Linked DNA regions of Homo sapiens. The protein of the gene in region 1 purifies or fractionates together with the protein of each later gene. This does not show direct contact. Each region holds a gene or a part of one and is shown on either strand. Other genes may lie near its edges.

Evidence for each region.
Region 2: the proteins of LOXL3 (region 1) and POTEE purify together in Homo sapiens (affinity purification with mass spectrometry; one large-scale study listed by BioGRID and IntAct). This does not show direct contact.

Annotation. Positions count from the first base shown.
Region 1 is NC_000002.12:74,531,740-74,534,664, reverse strand, and holds the end of LOXL3 (lysyl oxidase homolog 3 isoform 1 precursor), read left to right. Parts: coding exon 1-134; intron 135-233; coding exon 234-349; intron 350-428; coding exon 429-565; intron 566-671; coding exon 672-783; intron 784-985; coding exon 986-1,059; 3' UTR 1,060-1,679; coding exon of another isoform or gene 1,680-1,845; 3' UTR 1,846-1,950; coding exon of another isoform or gene 1,951-2,046; 3' UTR 2,047-2,407; downstream 2,408-2,925. Other genes in the region: HTRA2 (serine protease HTRA2, mitochondrial isoform 1 preproprotein), read right to left, coding at 1,680-1,845, 1,951-2,046, 2,740-2,809. UniProt on the Homo sapiens protein: Protein-lysine 6-oxidase that mediates the oxidation of peptidyl lysine residues to allysine in target proteins.
Region 2 is NC_000002.12:131,229,852-131,233,683, forward strand, and holds part of POTEE (POTE ankyrin domain family member E), read left to right. Parts: intron 1-984; coding exon 985-1,055; intron 1,056-3,832.

The DNA.
Region 1 (2,925 bases):
TCAGCCCGCTCAGCCAACTGGCCCTATGGTCACCGGCGTCTGCTCCGATTCTCCTCCCAGATCCACAACCTGGGACGAGCTGACTTCAGGCCCAAGGCTGGGCGCCACTCCTGGGTGTGGCACGAGTGCCATGGGTGAGAGGGTAGGGAGTCAAGTAGAAGGGCAAGACCACGGGGGATGGGGCAAACCTTCTGGGGGCAGAGAAGGAAACAGAAGTTCCCTTCTCCCCACAGGCATTACCACAGCATGGACATCTTCACTCACTATGATATCCTCACCCCAAATGGCACCAAGGTGGCTGAGGGCCACAAAGCTAGTTTCTGTCTCGAAGACACTGAGTGTCAGGAGGGTGAGTTGGGGACTGAAGTGAACCACATGGTATCCATTGCACAGCCTTTCCTTACACTGACATATGCCAATCCCTCCAGATGTCTCCAAGCGGTATGAGTGTGCCAACTTTGGAGAGCAAGGCATCACTGTGGGTTGCTGGGATCTCTACCGGCATGACATTGACTGTCAGTGGATTGACATCACGGATGTGAAGCCAGGAAACTACATTCTCCAGGTACCTGGAGTCTGGGGCTTCCAGATGGGTGAGTGGGGGGAGCGTTAAAGACACCTTTGAATTCGAGGATTGTCGCTGGGTTAAGTGGCCTTTTTCTCACTCACAGGTTGTCATCAACCCAAACTTTGAAGTAGCAGAGAGTGACTTTACCAACAATGCAATGAAATGTAACTGCAAATATGATGGACATAGAATCTGGGTGCACAACTGCCACATTGGTATTTGATGGGAAGAGCAACCCAGGAAGATTAGGGGATGGGAGGGAAAGACGTTCATTCTCTTTTCCATAGCTTGTTTCTCCATCTTCCCACCTTCCTGTAGAGCTCTCAGTCCCTCCACTTCTACCCACCCTTCTCCACAGTGCATCTATCTCCCTCCCTCTGTGCAGGGCGCCTCCCAAATTGCCTGTCCACTCTGCAGGTGATGCCTTCAGTGAAGAGGCCAACAGGAGGTTTGAACGCTACCCTGGCCAGACCAGCAACCAGATTATCTAAGTGCCACTGCCCTCTGCAAACCACCACTGGCCCCTAATGGCAGGGGTCTGAGGCTGCCATTACCTCAGGAGCTTACCAAGAAACCCATGTCAGCAACCGCACTCATCAGACCATGCACTATGGATGTGGAACTGTCAAGCAGAAGTTTTCACCCTCCTTCAGAGGCCAGCTGTCAGTATCTGTAGCCAAGCATGGGAATCTTTGCTCCCAGGCCCAGCACCGAGCAGAACAGACCAGAGCCCACCACACCACAAAGAGCAGCACCTGACTAACTGCCCACAAAAGATGGCAGCAGCTCATTTTCTTTAATAGGAGGTCAGGATGGTCAGCTCCAGTATCTCCCCTAAGTTTAGGGGGATACAGCTTTACCTCTAGCCTTTTGGTGGGGGAAAAGATCCAGCCCTCCCACCTCATTTTTTACTATAATATGTTGCTAGGTATAATTTTATTTTATATAAAAAGTGTTTCTGTGATTCTTCAGAGCCCAGGAGTCAGTGCTGGTGGTTGGAGGGACCTGCCCCCACTGGTTCATTTAACCCTCTGTCTCGGTGCCCTCAGAACCTCAGCCAGAAAGGCAAGGAGGAAATCAGAGCAGGAGCCTCATACTCTTGGTGATCTATTCATTCTGTGACCTCAGGGGTCACATATAAGGTCAGTGTTTCTCGTCCCCGCCGGATCTGCACTGCCAACTGGGATTGGGTTCGAACAGCTTCATAAACATCTTCAGCATTTTGTACCATCTGCTCCCCAATGGCCAAAATCACATCACCAGGCCGCAGACCAGCCCTATAGAGAAAAATGGACAGAGAGAAAGGAAGGAGTACAAAGCCTAGTTCAAGGACACATGCACACCTTGCCCATCCCCATATCACACTGCAGCCTCTCCCTCACCGGTGTGCAGGGGAGCCCAGGATGACTTTATGGATGAGTACACCATGCTGAACATCGGGAAAGCTTGGTTCTCGAAGCTGTAGTTCAGCAAGGATGCTGAAAGTACACAGATCACCCTATTAGCCAAACCCAGGCATTCTCCCCATCCTGAGTTCCACCTCAAGTCTCTCATCAACACATTGATAAATATATGGACAGGACATGGGCTAGGTACTACAAAATACAATGGCAACTCACTTTCTGTCTTCTAGCAATAAAGTGCAACATGTACATAAAAGATGTACACCACATGAGGGCACCAAATGACAAACAGTGTTAAATCAATAGCACTAATGTCATTCTAGAATACTAAGAGAAGCTTTAAGGGGAAAGAACTTAAGTTGAGCCTAAAAGGATGGATCTGATATTAACCATATAAAACAAGAACAGCATAAATAAAAAACATGGGAGTAGGAAATCAGGTTGGCTGAGTATTCATATAGGAAGGTATTACAGCCAGGTCTAGAAAGTTGATTTACAGACAGATGGAAAATGGCCCTTAAATGCCAAGTTAATGGATTGAAGGCTTGAAATCAAAGCAGTAACAGGATGAAATCAATCTGGTGACAGGTGTACAAAGTGGAGTGGGATAAGAAAGTCAAGATGATGAAGGGAGACAGCTCTTGTGATTATTTCAAGTGTGACACAGTTCATCTTAGATAAAGACAGAAATGAGAACAAAGCTCAATAGAGGTGCCCCCCTCTGATTACACTGGTCACATTACATGTCACTGTCCCTAAAGCTCATACCTGGGACTCAGGGTCAGCATCATCACCCCAATGTAGCGCCGCTGGGACCCACTGATTCCGGAGGAGGAATCTGTGACAGAGGGACAAATGAGCCCCACCCAGCTACATCCTTCCTTCCCTGCCCTCTTCTCCCAGTAGACCACCCTCCAGGAAGTCCCACTGAATGCCCTTCCCCTATTTCCACCA
Region 2 (3,832 bases), about 57 Mb from region 1:
ATGACTTAGACCTGAATAACATGTTCGGTGCAAAATATATTGTTAGTATGTATGTCGAAAATTACAGAATGTCAGCTTGCTACTTCTCTGTGGAAACTAAAAAAAAATAAAAGTAGACTTTTGGTCTCCCATGTCAGCTGGAATTGAACATCAATATAAAGCATTATCCTAACAGACATCTACTGGCTGAGAGTTTGAGTCTGTAGAGAAGGATCGTTGGTCCAAGTCAGGTCTTAACATCCATTGGTTTTTCTGCCCTTGGTGTGATTGATCAACTCCGTAATAGTGGACAATCACATTATCTACTTTAATGAGATATTTATGAATAAATTTAGTTACAAACTATGACATAGTTGAGATGCCCTGAATTATAAGCCATAAAGAGTAGGACAACTAAGAAGCAAAATTAGGACTTAATAACATTTTCTGAAAACTACAACATTTGTATATTAGAACCTATGAACAAAATATGCATTGGGTTTTATTTGGGATTCCAAGATAATTTTAGTCATAAAGTTTAGGAACAGATTATTCCATTGCTTTACTATTTCTCTGAGCATTTAAAAAATGTTATCTCGTTAAACCTTTATAACAACCTAGTGAAATAAGGCAGCAAAGTCCTCACTTTGTTGAAGAAGACATTGAGCCTAAGAGAAGCAAGTTGTCCAAGAACAAATAGCTGTTCATTATGGAGCTAGGACTTATTTAGAGTTGGGACACTTTCTATTATGTCATGCTAATGCTAGCTAATTTACTGGGTCACAGTGCCCTCGATTTATGACTATTTCACCTTACATTTTTTTCTTCTTTAATTAGAAGCTTAAAGAGAAGTTTGTAGAATGTATTCATAAGTGGATGGGATAATACTATTAAGTTCTGTTATTCTGATATTGTTTGAAATACTCTTAATAATTCTACATTTGGTAAGTTTTTTTTATATCAGTATTAAAATAGTAATTTGGTTTATTACATTTTTATACATAGAATTTGCCAGTTACTTTCTGACTACAAAGAAAAACAGATGCTAAAAATCTCTTCTGAAAACAGCAATCCAGGTAAGACTTGTGATAGTGAATTACTTTAGTCAGTTGTCCCCAACCTTTTTGACACCAGGGACCGGTTTTGTGGAAGACAATTTTTCCATGGGCTGGGGGAGGGTGGGGATGGTTTCAGGATTATTCAATCATGTTACATTTATTGTGCTACTTTATATTATTATCACATTGTAATATATAATGAAATAATTATACAACTTACCATAATGTAGAATCCGTGGAAGCTCTGAACTTATTTTTCTGCAACTGGATGGTCTCATCTGGGGGCAAAGTGAGACAGTGACAGATCATCAGGCATTAGATTCTCATACGAAGCACACAACCTAGATCCCTCAGATGGGCAGTTCACAACAGGGTTCATGCTCCAATGAGTATCTAGTGCTATCACTGATCTGACTGGAGGCAGAGTACAGGCGGTAATATGAGCCATAAGGAGTGGCTGTAAATACAGATGAAGCTTCCCTGGCTTGCCTGCTGCTCACCTCCTCCTGTGTGGTGTGGTTCATAATAGTCCATGGACTGGTATGAGTCTGTGGCCTGGGAGTTGAGGACCCCTGCTTTGCGTGGTCCTACCATAGATAAAAAAGTAAAAGTAAGGAATTTTTGATCACAAAAGAACACTGAAGCACAAGTCATGTTACATATGCTTGTCCCAATAAGGTCTCACTATTACTGACTTCATTCCTCCTCATTTGAAGTTGGAAAGAGATATATTTACTTTGTTGGAACAAGATGTGTTCTTCTACCTGCTGGTTAATTGTCATCATAACAGTAATTTTGTTAGAACAAGATGCTCTGCTACCATTTGCCAAAAGATTGTCATAATAAATATACAAATTGCCCAACTCTAGGCTCAGCAGATTATAATAAAAGCAGAAAAACGTTTCACACTAACAAAAACGCTAGTATGCTACCTGGTTGTGGACACCTAATACATTTATAGTCCAAACTGTATGAGGACACCTTTAATTTAGCCATCTATTTATCAAAGAGCTTTTGTAAGTTAGGTTTTATAAGTTGCAGGAGACAAAGATGGAATAGATGTAGTTTTGATCTTTAAGGTGCTCATAATAGAGCTGTCTCCATTTCATTTCTGTGGTTTTTCAACAGAATTTACAAAGAAAACATTTCTATTTATGTTTTCACTTGTCCACTTAACATATAACTATCAAATGTCTTTTAGATAGTAACCATTTTTCTAATGCTATAGACCACAAACAATTAAAAATACAGACAGGAGCTTTTTGTTATCATTGTCATTTTCATTATTTTACTACTTTATTCAGTGCTTACTGTGTGCTAGATGCCCACTGGAAGCTTATAATTATGATTTATTATATATTGATTATGTGCCAGACATATGTGATGAGGAATGAAAGTTTTGGGAAAAAGTAGGTATGATTTAAGGTAAGCATGCAGAGAGAGAAGAATTTTTCTAGGTAAAGAAGCAGAAGAAGAATGTTTGGCAGAAGGAACATGCAGCGAGGTCGTGTGTTTGCCAGAAGGAACATCTAATGAGATTGCCTGTTTGGGAGGAAGAGCAGCAAGTGCAAAAGACAAGATGCTTGAGTGAACATGGCAGGGTTTCTGAGCAGTTCACTTTTGCTAGTACCAAAAGTGTGTGATACGAGAGGTTGGGAATGAGGTGAATACTTAGCTAAGGCAAGTTTATGATAGACTTTTTAATACTATAGAAATGAGTAGGTCTTATCCTGTGTGCCATGGGAAATTTACCGGGTAGAATGCTTTGGACTGCAAATACTAGATGAACAGTGGCTAAAACAGTAGGAACCAGAGTTGTTTTGGTTGTTCATTGATATCCTAGGATCCCACTTTTCCCTCTTTCAGCTGTGCTGTTGACAGTGTTTTATTCACGTCTCCCTTCATGGTTGGCTAATCCGCAGCAGCTCCAAACATCTTGTTCTCACAACACAACATCGCAAGGGCTGCTTTTCTTCACATGTGTCTTTTAAACAGGGAGAAAACTTAGAAGCATGCAAAGGGCTTCCTGTAACATTTCACTGGCTGGGTCACACCACATGCTCATTCCCAAACCAGGCACTGGGAAGGTAAATACCTGATTAGCTTAGAATAATCATTTCTGTTTCTGAGGCTGAGGAGGGGGATTGGGATAATAAATATCCCAATAGACTTGGATTTCTTCTTCAAGAAAGAATAAGGAATGGCTATTGATAGGGAGCCAACAATGTGTGCTGCAGGGGCTCATTGGAGAAATTTGAGCAGGGGAGTCATAAGATTAAATCTGAGTATTAAGGCATTCTGGTTATGGTGTAAAACGGGTTAGCAAGCTTTTTCTGTAAATGGCCAGTTGGGCAATATTTTAGACTATGTGGTCTCTGTCATATCTACTTAACCCTGCTGTTGTCTGCTGTTGTAGTGTGAAAGCCACCATGATTATATGTAAGCAAACAGGCATGACTGAGCTCCTATAAAACTTTATTTACAAAACCATAATGCAGATTGGATTTGGCCTGTGGCCTATAGTTTGCTGGGATTGATGGAAGGTTCTTTACCCTGTAAAGAAACCAGGAGACAAAGGAAGTTTTCGCAGTAGTCAGTTATAGTTTCCTTGTCATACATCCTTGGAGTAGCATCAATGTATTACAAGGTTTTCACCCGTCCTTAGTGAAATACATAAAGTTAGGAATCTCAACTACTTGTTTTAATATGTTGGCCTTTTTTTTTTGGTGTTATGCTTTTTTCATTTGTTTTGCTTAATTTTTTTCATGTAAGAAATAACATTAATAGTTGGCAGG